Homo sapiens: one gene and its partners. The protein of the gene in region 1 purifies or fractionates together with the protein of each later gene. This does not show direct contact. Each region holds a gene or a part of one and is shown on either strand. Other genes may lie near its edges.

Evidence for each region.
Region 2: the proteins of EVL (region 1) and TRMT61A purify together in Homo sapiens (affinity purification with mass spectrometry; 2 studies listed by BioGRID and IntAct, with this or other methods). This does not show direct contact.
Region 3: the proteins of EVL (region 1) and TACC3 purify together in Homo sapiens (affinity purification with mass spectrometry; 2 studies listed by BioGRID and IntAct, with this or other methods). This does not show direct contact.
Region 4: the proteins of EVL (region 1) and ETFRF1 purify together in Homo sapiens (affinity purification with mass spectrometry; 2 studies listed by BioGRID and IntAct, with this or other methods). This does not show direct contact.

What each region holds. Positions count from the first base shown.
Region 1 is NC_000014.9:100,141,579-100,144,736, reverse strand, and holds the end of EVL (ena/VASP-like protein), read right to left. Parts: intron 3,002-3,158; coding exon 2,944-3,001; intron 1,037-2,943; coding exon 999-1,036; 3' UTR 501-998; downstream 1-500. UniProt on the Homo sapiens protein: Ena/VASP proteins are actin-associated proteins involved in a range of processes dependent on cytoskeleton remodeling and cell polarity such as axon guidance and lamellipodial and filopodial dynamics in migrating cells.
Region 2 is NC_000014.9:103,532,196-103,534,884, forward strand, and holds part of TRMT61A (tRNA (adenine(58)-N(1))-methyltransferase catalytic subunit TRMT61A), read left to right. Parts: intron 1-386; coding exon 387-653; intron 654-2,354; coding exon 2,355-2,626; 3' UTR 2,627-2,689. UniProt on the Homo sapiens protein: Catalytic subunit of tRNA (adenine-N(1)-)-methyltransferase, which catalyzes the formation of N(1)-methyladenine at position 58 (m1A58) in initiator methionyl-tRNA.
Region 3 is NC_000004.12:1,731,521-1,735,020, reverse strand, and holds part of TACC3 (transforming acidic coiled-coil-containing protein 3), read right to left. Parts: intron 1-3,500. UniProt on the Homo sapiens protein: Plays a role in the microtubule-dependent coupling of the nucleus and the centrosome. Involved in the processes that regulate centrosome-mediated interkinetic nuclear migration (INM) of neural progenitors.
Region 4 is NC_000012.12:25,201,737-25,205,236, reverse strand, and holds the end of ETFRF1 (electron transfer flavoprotein regulatory factor 1), read right to left. Parts: exon of another isoform or gene 1,405-3,500; intron 1,318-1,404; 5' UTR 1,281-1,317; coding exon 1,230-1,280; intron 1,147-1,229; coding exon 925-1,146; 3' UTR 94-924; downstream 1-93. UniProt on the Homo sapiens protein: Acts as a regulator of the electron transfer flavoprotein by promoting the removal of flavin from the ETF holoenzyme (composed of ETFA and ETFB).

The sequences.
Region 1 (3,158 bases):
TGGCCCTGGTTCCTTGAAGCTGAGGGTCAGAACCTCTGTCTCTGGCTGCTGCCTCAGGGCAGGGGCCTGGGACAGCCCATTGCAGGCCAGGTGGTCCTCCCAGGAGACTTTGTGGGGCCGAGGAGAAGGCAAAGCTGCCTTGCATTTGCCTGGTGCCTGCTAAGCCCCAAGTCCATCCCTCCCCTGAACAGGACGCTCGCAGGGCCCTGCCCGTCAGAATGCACGTGGAGTCCTCTGAGGTTCGGGGGTGTGGGTTGCACTTGAGGGACCATCTTCCTGGAGATCCCGTAGGGAGTTCCCTACAGGCAGGACCTGAGGCCCAGCCCCAGGACACCACCCCACCTTCCCGGGGCTTGGGAATGTTCTGAGCCCAGCTTCCTGTCGAAGACCGCCATCTTGCTCCTACGACTCCTGGTCACCGTGGTCCCGGGCCCTTCTCTGAAAAGGGGCATCCCCAGCCCGGAGCGTGATGGACCAATGCGAGGGCCTGAGCCCGAGGGTGCGGACAGTAAACCGTTTATTACTGTGTGGACACAGACACCGTGGTGCATGACAGACAGTTTCAACACCATGAGCGCTGGGGACGGAGCTGTGCCTGGACAGCTCTGCGGTGTGTGGTGGCGCCACGCTGGGCCGGCTGTCACCGCCAGCTGAGGCGCTAACAGCGTCACCTGGGAGAAAACCTGGAAACCGTCTAATGAAGCAGGTGACTTAGGGGCGTCTCTAGAAACCCAAAGAAATGTACCTTAAATAAGCAAATATAAAACACAAAAAAGACGAGCAGACCTGGTGTTCCGTGTCAGGCAGAATCTAAAAAAACCCAGGAGTTGCACTTGGTTTCCTCACTGTCATGTGTGATCACAGGTCAGGACGTTTCACAGCAGCGCGCCCAGGCTCCTGTGCGTGCTCTGGTGCACTGGAGTCTGGGGCTGGCTGGGCTTCTGGCTGTCCTCTGTCGCCGGATGGGCTCGACGAATCAGCGCAGCGAGGCCGGCCCCTTACGTGGTGCTGATCCCACTCAGCTCCTGCCTGATGGCTGCGGGACAGGTGGCGGCGGCTCAGGTGCAGCCATGACCAGTGCAGCCCGGTTCCTCATCAGGGCCCCGCACCCCTGGCGTGGACCTGCCTGGTATGTGTCCCTGTTCCATCTCCTGGGAGCCCCACCCAGGCTTTGGCATAGACCTCTGGGGTGATGACCAAAGGCTTTGGGTCTCATCTGCCATTCCTTCTGCGGCGGCCCCTGCTGCCACTGCCCTTTTAGGGGAGGACCTGGCGTAGGGACAGAGGCCTGTGCCCTGCCTGTGGCCTCACTGCTGCTGAGGAGTGCTGGGCACCAGAACTCTGGTGTGAGGAGCTGCTGTGTGGGGACGCAGGGTCTCTGTAGGCTCTGGACAGGTGGGTGTCCAGGTGCCGGGGGCCCGGGAGCCCTTCCCCCAACATAGTGGAGGCTGAGGCTCTGCCCTCCCAGCTCCTGCAGGGGTCAGCAGGAAATCTTGGCCCTGGACCCCAGGGACTGCCCTGGCTCTGCTCACTCCTCAGGAGAGGCAGGGTCCTCTCTTGCCTCCCCCCAGCTTCCTCATCACCCCAAGCTAGTGCTCCAACCCCCGGCCTCCCAAATTTGGGCCTTTCCCTCCTTCCTCTGGTATCCATCCCCTCCCGGACTCCCCCTCCTCTATGTCAACTCAGGCCTCTCTCTGGATGGACCTTGCTGGGCCAAGAGCCAACAGCCAGGAGAAGGTTGTGGGGGCTGGGGGATGGGAGCTGCTTCTCAGAGCCCCTGGTATGGCCCATGCCTACCCCCGGGCTCTCAGCCAGGGTGGGTTCCACCTGGGGCTGCACCCACAGCAGGTGGAGAGGCTGTGGTGGGCCCTGGGTTTCTGACCCAGCTATGCCTGGGGCCAGACGGCACCCAGCAGTAAGGCGGTGTGACCAGTTGGCTGAGTGCCTGCCTATCGCCCAGGCTGCCTCATTCCCCTCATTTGTTAACTCCTTATCTCCCCAGCCCAGGCCTTTGGGGGAACTGGACAAACAGGAACTGAGTGCTCTCTGCTCAAACAAGGGTGGGCCGGCTGGGGGAGGAGGCCTGGGTCTTTGGGCTCCCACCTGCCTCTTCCCTCTGCCATCAGCCTCCACCCCTGTGCGCTTGTGGGACCCTTTTGCCCCGGTCACTGTGATGCCCTGGGGGCCAGACCCAGCTACACACCCAGGTGTCAGCCTTTATCACCCTGGTTGGGGAGGCACGTGGGGAGCTGGCACTGGCTGTGCTGCATAGCTCGTCCCTAGACTGAGTCTGCCCTGCCCACTCCCCCTTTTCCTCTGGCTGCAGATCTGAGGCAGAGCATTCAAAGGCTCTGCTGGGAACCGGAAGGACGGATGTGATGCATTGAGACCCACCCTGCTCTGGAGCCAGAGGCTGCTCCCTGCCTGTTCCCCAGCCCAGGGCCAGGCAGGCTGTGAACGAGCTCAAGCCTGGAAGGTGCTTCTGTAGACCTTGGTCTTCCTGTACCCCCAGGAAGGCAGAGTGGTCACCTCAGAAGCCCAACACCAGTGACTGGAGGTGGCAGTATCAAGAAGGCAGTATAAACCGCCAGGGGGTGGAATGACAGCAGCTCAGGTGGCTCCTCCAGACCTGGCTCTGGAACGATGCTGGGGTCTCCCCTCCATGCTCTTCCCACGTGGGTCTTCCAGGAAGGTGCCGGGGATGTGGAAGGTCAGATTCGGGTGTCATGCTACCAGGGAGCTACAAATTCTTAGGCAAGCCACTTAGCTTTCAGCTTTCCTGAGCCTGTTTCCTCAACTAGAGATGGTAAGAATGAAATCTCTCACAGGGCCCAGTGCAGTATGGGCTCCAGCTCAAAACTGGAGGCCCCCAGCCTGGGTGACAGGGACCCTTGTCCTGCGGCCACACCTGGGTGCCACCCTCCCCGGTGGGGCTGCACTCACCGTCGATGATCTCCTCCTTCACCTTGTGGAGCTCTCTCACCACCTCCTCTAGGATCTCCTGTTGGGAGAGGAGTGTCCAGGTGAAGGGACAGGCAGTGGAGACGGAAAAGCCGGCCTGGGCTGGGCCATGTCCAAAGGGCTTGGGGTCTCCTGGGCCTCTCCAGAGTTGCATCTGTCACCCTTGTCTCCTCGTGGCCCCCTTCCCACGCTGAGGG
Region 2 (2,689 bases), 3.4 Mb from region 1:
GGGCTGAGTGATGGGATGGCCTCCCTGTCCCCCTTGCACAGATTTCCCCGGAGGCTCCAGGCAGCTGGGCTGCTCTCATTCCCTATACCTGCGCTAGGCAGGATAGGGCAGGGTTGCCACTGGCCTCGCCTGTGCCCACAACAGACAGCACGGCATACACAGCCTGTCAACCCCAGCTCACCCCTAGACAGGGTGCCCAACCCAGGGCTAGCCTGGGGCTTTAGGCAGCCAGGACCATACAGCCCTGGAATGACGCCCACCTGTAGCTTGGGGTCCTCCCAAGCCCTGTGTGGGTCTCCAGGGTGAGGTGGGGGTTGTTTCCTGGGAGGCTGTGGGTCCCGAGCAGTCCCAACTGATGCCTTGCCCATCCCTTCTTGTCCTGCCAGGCACCGGCAGTGGCTCTGTGTCCCACGCCATCATCCGCACCATTGCACCCACGGGTCACCTGCACACGGTGGAGTTCCACCAGCAGCGGGCAGAGAAGGCCCGGGAGGAGTTCCAGGAGCACCGTGTGGGCCGCTGGGTGACTGTGCGCACCCAGGACGTGTGCCGCAGTGGCTTTGGCGTGAGCCACGTGGCCGACGCCGTCTTCCTGGACATCCCATCACCCTGGGAGGCCGTGGGCCACGCCTGGGACGCCCTCAAGGTCGAAGGTGCATCCGGGGTTCCGGGAGAGGTACAGCCTGGGTGGGGGTGGGGCAAGGGTGCAGGACTGAGCTCCTGGGATCTCAGAGGGGTCCAGAGACCAAGCCACACCATGGCAGTGGCCAGGCCAGGGCCCCACTTTGGCCTGAGGTGAGGAGTGGGTCAGGCTGGCCAGGGGAGGCAGAGCTGGGGAGGATGGTCCCTGGCTGGGCCCTGCTCCTGGTCTCTGGCCTCTCCCAACCCCCTGATGGAGGAAGGTGGCAGCGCCACCCAAGTGCAGGGCAGGCCCGGCCGGAGGAGTCTGGAGTCCCCTCCCTGCTGTTTCCCAAAACCTCTCCTCCCCCAGGCTCTGGAGCCCAGGGAGCTGGCCCCTTTTAGGGAAGATGCTGGGTGCGGAGGCGGGGCAGCCCTGGGGAAGGTCGGGCCTCAAGCCAGGGAGGTGGCTGGGAGGCCCAGGGTTTTTCCCTTTTCTGGAGAAGGAGCAGCTCAGGCAGCAGGGGCCCCTTCCTTCTTCCCAGCTGAGAGTTGTATTCTGAGAGGGTTGAAGGGTGGAGGTGCTGGGCGCCCCACCCCACCTCAAAGATGAGCCGAGGCCTGGTGCGAACAGCAAGGCTGTGGCCGGGGGTCCCCTGCTGGCTCCAGCCCAGCCCTGACTCCTGGGTCCTGGTCTCTGCTGAGGTGGGTAGCTGTGGGGATCTCCACACCCTGCCTCCTAGGCTTCCTGCTCTGGGGACACTTCTGGGCCTGGACCATAGTCCCAGGGAGGCTGAACCCGGCAGAGCCTCCCCTGGGGCCCCCCTGCTGCCTTTGTGACTCCTTCCTCCAGCGTGGCTCGGGGAACCCGCGCCTGCCTCTGGGACCTGTCCCTTTCCCTGCGAGCTCCCCCTTCTGGGTCCAAAGGCTCCTGGCTCATTCATGGGCCCGGCATCTCCTGCCGGCCACGGGAGCCCGCTGGGGAGGATGCGGCATGCTCAGCCTCTGTGCCCTGTCTAGGCTGTTGTCACACAGCAGGTGCCTCCTCTAACCCCGAACCTCCTGGCGGCCCCGTGTTAGGGTACAGCTGAGGAGACCAAACCTCAGGGACGTTTGAGGACACTTGCCTGGGCCACATACCTCTACCCGGCCCTGGCTTCCCCAGGTCCTCCCTGCCAGGACAGGGACCCGGGCTGGGTTCTCATTCACTGCAGGCCAGGCCAAGTGAAGCCCGTGGCTGCCCTGGTGGGAGGCGGCAGGGAGGGGCTGTCATGCTCGGGCTCTGCTTCGAGTAGGCGCCTCCTGTTCCCGGGAGCAGCGACAGCCTCTAATTTCCTGTGACAGCAGCGGCCCCCGCACCGCCCCACGCTGCCGTGCTGTCAGAGCTGCTCCGGGCCCAGAGCTCCAGCAGCCCTGTGGAAGGCAGGAGAGCAGTGCCCGCTGTGGGCCAAGTGAGACAATGGCAGCGCGGGCTTGACCCGGTGCCTGGCACATGGGAGGGCCTGGCATGGCTAAGCTGGGTGACATGAACAGCGGCGCCAGGCCCCATGGGGGGCTGTCAGTTGAGGGCCAGGCCCCTCTGCCCTGCAGTCCCAGCTCTTGGAGAGCTTGCAGTCTGTGTTGGGGCTGTCTTAGGCTGGCCTCAGACCCTAGGGTGGGAGTCCAGGGATGCTAGGGCCAGACGGGCCAGGCTCTGCCACCCCTGCCCTCTGACCCTCGGGTCCTGTTTCCCACAGGCGGGCGCTTCTGCTCCTTCTCACCGTGCATCGAGCAGGTGCAACGCACATGCCAGGCGCTGGCAGCGCGCGGCTTCTCAGAGCTGAGCACCCTGGAGGTGCTGCCACAGGTCTACAACGTGCGCACTGTCAGCCTGCCACCGCCCGACCTGGGCACAGGCACAGATGGCCCTGCCGGCTCCGACACCAGCCCCTTCCGCAGCGGCACGCCCATGAAGGAGGCCGTGGGCCACACCGGCTACCTGACCTTCGCCACCAAGACCCCAGGCTAGGGGGCCGCCTCCCAGGGCACCAGGGAGCTGGGAGCACTGAAGGGCTGGGCAGGGAGGCCAGAG
Region 3 (3,500 bases), on another chromosome or scaffold:
ACATCTGGGGAAAGGCGGGGGCAAAACTGCTCTGGTTGAGAACTATTAGTCTTTAAAATTACCCTAGACAAGTCTTTTAATTTTTGATAATATAACTTTTGATTAAAACTAAGGGTGGAGGCTGAGGCGAGTGGATCACTTGAGCCCAGGAGTTCAACAGGGCAAAACCTTGTCTGTACAAAAAATACAAAAATTAGCTAGGCGCGGTGCTGCACTCCTATTACAGGGAGGCTGAGGCAGGAGAACTCCTTGAGCCTGGGAGGTGGAGGCTGCACTGAGCTGAGATTATGCCACTGCACTCCAACCTGGGCAGCGGAGGGAAAACTGTTGCAAAAAAAAAGAAAAGGTGCCTCATACCACATACAAAGATTAACTCAGAATGGATCAACACCCTAACTGTGAGAGTTAAAACTATCCTACTTTTTGTTTTGGTAGAGGAGGAGTCTTGCTACGTTGCCAGGGCTGGTCTTGAACTCCTGACTTCAAGTGATCCTCCGGTCTCGGCCTCTAAAACTATAAAACTCTTAAACTGTGGCTGGGCGCAGTAGCTCACATCTGTAATCCCAGCACTTTGGGAGGCCAAGGCAGGTGGATCACCTGAGGTCAGGAGTTTGAGGCCAGCCTGGCCAACATGGGGAAACCCTGTCTCTACGAAAAATGCAAAAATTAGTTGGGCACGGTGGCATGAGCCTGTAATCCCAGCTACTTGGGAGGCTGAGGCAGGAGAATCGCTTGAACCCAGGAGGCGGAGGTTGCAACAAGCTGAGATCATGCTACTGCACTCCAGCCTGGGCGACAGAGCAAGACTCCGTCTCGGGAAAAAAACAAACCAAACTGGTACTTTAAGACAGGGTCTTGATCTGGCTGAGATCCAGGCTGAGGCATCTCTAGTTTTGTCCCTTTCTTCATGCCTAGCAGTATTTGCTCATTCTCTCCTTTTCTCAATTAAGCTAAAAAACGGTTGCCAATTATTTAGTCTAGCAAAAACTTGTAGGTCCTTCTCTGCTATGGCCTTGTCAGTTTTCTTTTCTTTTTTTTTTTTTTGAGACAGAGTCTTGCTCTGTTGCTCAGGTGGAGTGCGGTGGCGCCATCTCGGCTCACTGCAACCTCCGCCTCCTGGGTTCAAGCGATTCTCCCGCCTCAGCCTCCCAAGTAGCTAGGATTACAGGCATGTGCCAACACACCCAGCTAATTTTTGTATTTTTAGTAGAGATGAGGTTTCACCATGTTGGCCAGGCTGATCTCAAACTCTTGATCTCAGGTGATTCGCCCTCCTCAGCCTCCCAAAGTGCTAGGATTACGGGCGTGAGCCACCGCACCTAGCCTTGTTGTCAGTTTTCATTTCTGCCTTTTTTTTCTTTCCTTCAGATAGGGTCTCGCTGTCGCCCAGACTGGAGTGCAGTAGTGCAATCATGGCTCACTGCAGCCTTGACCTCCTGGCTCAAGCGAGCCTCCCATCTCAGCTTCCCGAGCAGCTGGGACTATAGGTGTACGCCACCATGCCAGGTAATAAAAAAAAAGGTTTTTTTTGGTAGAGATGAGGTCTTGCCATGTTGCCCAGGTTAGTCTCAAACTACAGGGCTCAAACAATCCTGCCTCGGCCCCGCAAAATGCTGAGATTACAAGTGTGGGCCCCTATGCCTGGCCAAAAGCCAATACTTTGAAACATCATCTGATAAGGGACTTAACTTTGTATTTTTTCCTTTCCCTCACTTCTTGAATAAAAGGGATTTACCTCTTAAAACTCAGTAATAAAAACATAAGTGGCTCAATGGACAAGGGATCTCGACAGACACTTTCCCAAAGAAGATATCCAACGAGCACATAAAAAGACGCTCGTTCATGAGCCACCTGGGAACTGCAAATCAAAACCGCAACCAGATCCGCTTCCCACCCGCTGGAAGTCTAGGATCAACAAGACAGACAAGCAGCGCTGGCGAGGATGTGGAGAAACTGGAGCTCTCTTATAACTGCCAGTGGGAATGTGAAACACTGCAGCCACTCTGGAAGGCCACCTGGTAGCTAAAAGGTGAGCAGAGTTACTGTGACCAGCGACTCCACTCCTAGCTATGTATCCAGGAGAAATGGAAGAATACATCCACATAGAACTTACACCTGAACATTCGAGGCAGCACTACTCCTGACAGCTAAAAAGCAGAAACCAGCAAATCCATGAATGAATGGATAAGATGATGTGAAGCCAAGCTGCCACGGCAAGGACAGGAGCACCCACACCTGCTCCAGCATGGCCAGGACTCGGAAACACACCTCCCCGAGGGAGACGCCGGACACAGAAGGCCGTGCTGTGTGATTCCAGGGATCCTGCGTGAGGGTGACAGGCCCATCCCAGCTGAGCTGATATCCCCACATGGTGGCGGCCCACAACTATCCTGTCAGCGACAAACCCTACATGCCATTCGTGTCTGCTGTGTGCCTGGGTTTTCAGTTCTCTAAATTGAGATCTTATACCCACCTGGCTGTGTGTCCTTTAAAACAACTCAGCCATCAATTCCTACCAAATGCACTTTAATTTAAGGACCGTTCCACCTTCCAATCTTACGGACAAACCGTATTTATTTAACTGCAGCCTCCAATCTTACGGACAAACTGTATTTATTTAACTGCAGCCTCCAATCTTACGGACAAACCGTATTCAACTGCAGCCTCCAATCTTACGGACAAACCGTATTCAACTGCAGCCTCCAATCTTACGGACAAACCGTATTTATTTAACTGCAGCCTCCAATCTTACGGACAAACCGTATTTATTTAACTGCAGCCTCCAATCTTACGGACAAACCGTATTTATTTAACTGCAGCCTCCAATCTTACGGACAAGCCGTATTTATTTAACTGCAGCCTCCAATCTTACAGACAAACCGTATTCAAGTGCAGCCTCCAATCTTATGGACAAACCATGTTTAACTGCAGCCTCCAATCTTACAGACAAACCGTATTCAAGTGCAGCCTCCAATCTTATGGACAAACCGTATTCAACTGCAGCCTCCAGTCTTACGGACAAACCGTATTTAACTGCAGTCTGGTGTCTAAGGTTCAGGCTTCACATTTCATTATCAAGGGGTTCTGGGCCGGGCGCGGGGGCTCACGCGTGCAATCCCAGCACTTTGGGAGGCCGAGGCAGGTGGATCACTTGAGGTCAGAGTTTGAGACCAGCCTGGCCAACATGGTGAAACCCCGTTGCCACTAAAAGTACAAAAATTAGCTGGATGTGGTGGTACATGCTTGTAATCCCAGCTACTTGGGAGGCTGAGCAGGAGAATCTCTTGAACCTGGGAAGTGGAGGTTGCATTGAACCCAGATTGTGCCACTGCATTCCAGGCTGGGTGACAGAGCGAGACTATCTCAGAAAAAAAAAAGAAGGTCGTTTCAAGCAGTATTTCTGATGATCGAGTATCCAGTTGTTGACTCTACACTTGTATCTCATTAGCGCACTGCATTGTTCACCTCTCCTGCTCATTTTCCTGAGTCTACAGTTTCCA
Region 4 (3,500 bases), on another chromosome or scaffold:
GTATTTATTCATGAAATTTGAACTGTTTGCCCCGAAATGGATATGGAATACTTTATAAGCCATAGACACTATAGTATACCAGTGAATCTTTTATGCAGCTTGTTAGAAGTATCCTTTATTTCTAAAAGGTGCTGTGGATATTATGTAAAGGCGTGTTTGCTTAAACTTAAAACCATATTTAGAAGTAGATGCAAAACAAATCTGCCTTTATGACAAAAAAATAGGATAACATTATTTATTTATTTCCTTTTATCAAAGAAGGTAATTGATACACAACAGGTGACTTGGTTTTAGGCCCAAAGGTAGCAGCAGCAACATTAATAATGGAAATAATTGAATAGTTAGTTATGTATGTTAATGCCAGTCACCAGCAGGCTATTTCAAGGTCAGAAGTAATGACTCCATACATATTATTTATTTCTATAACTACATTTAAATCATTACCAGGAACTGTTTGTTTTGTAGTGAACCTTGAGTATGTGCTGTTAATATACCAAATTGGGTGAAAAAATAAGGGATTCCTTTCAAAAGTTAAGAGAAGTAAGTGTGTAAGAAATTATTTTGCTTATTAAATGTTCGGTAAATGGCATTCTCTTGTCAGTAAAATGGAGAAATAAGCTAAAAATAATTGGCTAAGTCCTATTAAGTTAGAGGATTAAGTGTATTATATTTTCATTCAAAATTGGGTGCTCATTAATTTATGATCGGTAGTATAGCTAAATTGCTATGTTTGTATCAAAATTGAGCATAAAGTTGCTGATACTTTCTCCGTATGAACAGAAGTTGAAACCTATTTAGTTCAGTAGGGCAGCTCAGGGATTTTTTACACAACATGTATATCTTCCCATTTTAAGTTAGAATTATTTTACAACATCTGGTATACATAAACAGCTGGCACTGATAGCTAAATTAAAGTAGTAATGATCAATTAGTTTTGTTGGTATCTGAATAATAGCGTTGTTTCATAGCTCTGTATTTCCTAAGGAAGTACAAAGCTTCTAGCTCTTTCATTACAAATTCGCCCTGTGCAATAAGTTCTTTGATCTTCTCTGGATTCTTCACATCTTTGTTTTTAAGGAAAATGTTCTTCAAACGCTTTTTAAAATAGTCTGCTCCTTTTGGATAGTCTCGTCCAAGATACAGCAGCTTCAAAAAGAAAGATTATATATTTCTAAACAATCCATGTCATATAATAACATTTTTATAAAATTGGCAACATAATTACTTACATTTTTATAAAGTTTTAGTACTTCTCCTCTTAAAGAATTGGCCATTTTCATTTATCATGTAAATTATCCACTTTTATGCATAACATACCTAAAGAAAGGAAAATTTTTTTGCAATTAGCTGCATTGTAGTCTTAAAAAAATAAAAAAAGGTTATACACATTGAGAAAATGGTAACCTTTTTTACATTCAATAAATATTTCTTGATAACTTTTTCGTTCCACGTACTGGGATATAGTTATAAACACTTCCGATAAAATTACCTGCTGTCATAATTGACGTTTTCCTATGGGAGACATAAGCAAAGACAATTGTGATTGTGAGAAGTCACATGAAGGAAATGAGAAAGTGGATTGTCATCACAGATAGGTACGTGTACCTCCTTTTATGCCACAGTGGAATGAGTTAAACTAGATTTAAATTCCAGTTGCATAATGTACAGATTAATTAACCTTGCTGAGCCTGAGTTTTCCTTATCAACAAACAAGAGATTATCTTTACCCTGCTCTCAAGGCAAGGCCAGAGCCACTTGAAGGACATTGAGCAGAAGCCTGATCAAATGCTGATGGGTGCTTATCCAAAGGGAGGCTGAAAACTAGCAGAAACTGGGTGAGTTAAGCAGGTTGGAATAGTAGATGGGCAGTAAGATTGGTGGTGAAGAGGCCAAATGAACAACCTGTAAGAGGGTGTCCCTGAGGAACAGGCAAAATCATGCTTCTTTATGTGTAATGTGTTAACTCTACTTTGTAGAGGAGGCTCCAAACTTAAAGGCATCATGACAGTCTAAACCTAGAAAATAATTCCCACTACCTGTTAGAGTTGAATAGTAAGCTCTTAACATTGCATCCTATCAGGTGGATGCAACTGCAATTTGTTCCATTGTGATTGATAACTTTGATTACCCAATTAATGTATTTGCTAAGATTGTCCATTGTAAAATTATTTCTCCAAGGAACCTAGTCCTTTTAATGGAGAATAGCATTTAGAAACTATAATCTGGATGGAATGCTTTAGAAACCAAGGTCTGGGTGCTAAAAATGCTAATCACCATGGGACTGTCACTGTTCCCAGGTCCTCTAAGTGACAAAGCTGCAAGTGTATATACATACGGATTTAGGTGTTGTATGTGTGTATGACTTTTATATTAATCTCCATATAATCTGCTACCTAACATTCAATTCCAATACTACAGGGTTTATTTTCATTTCCCCTCTTTACATGGGTTTAATACTCTTGCTGAACAGTGAGAAGTCTGGTTCCCACTTGTCCTTAATAAATTTACTTTTTATAATCATCACCCCTTCTCTCACTATGTAATCAAAATCCTCTTGCTGTCACCATTCGGCGCACACACTCTACTCTCTGAGCTCTGCCACCTAATGCCAGAGTGCCACTGCCACCATCCCACATGCATGGTCTTCTCTTCCCCCTTTCCCCCAACCTACCCTTCTTGGGCTCAAGCAACTTACACTGCACCATTTCCTCCCTCCTGGGTAAGGCTCACCTTTTGTTCCCATTCCAAAAACCTGTGCCACCATTTCCTTCACCCTAATAGGATGCCCTCCTCATCCCCTGCTAGGCTGCTGCTGTGCACAAGTCCCTACCCCCAGAGGCCCTCCTCACTGCATTTGGGCTCCAGTATCCCCTGCTGGGCTACTACCTTGCCAGCCTTTCTCTCGCCCCCACCTTCCCCAGATGCCTGCCTTGCTCAGCCCCACGTAATGACTTTTGGACTGAATTACTCTGATAGGCAAGCAGGAAGCAACTTTTTTTTTTTTGAGATGGATTCTTGCTCTGTCCCCAAGCTGGAGTGCAGTGGTGCCATCTCAGCTCACTGCAACCTCCACCTCCCTGGTTCAAGCAATTCCCCTGCCTCAGTCTCCCCAGTAAGCTGGGACTACGTGTGCGCGCCACCACGCCTGGCTAATTTTTTTTTTTTTTTTTTTTGTATTTCAGTAGAGACGGGGTTTCACCATGTTGGCCGGGATGGTCTTGATCTCCTCACCTTGTGATCCACCCACCTTGGCCTCCCAAAGTGCTGGGATTACAGGCGTGAGCCACCGTGCCCGGCCGCAACTTATATTTTTAAAATAGGCTTTTAGATCAGTTTTAAGGGTTATTTTATAGTTAACTAGCAGAAAATGTGGATTAAAATTACAGTACCATACTCAATTAAAAATCATGCGCTACATAATTTAAGTTCTCCTGTTAACTTCTGTTTGGGTTGAACCCCGAAGTACAATAGTGTAGATTCTCATTGTGACCTCACCTGCC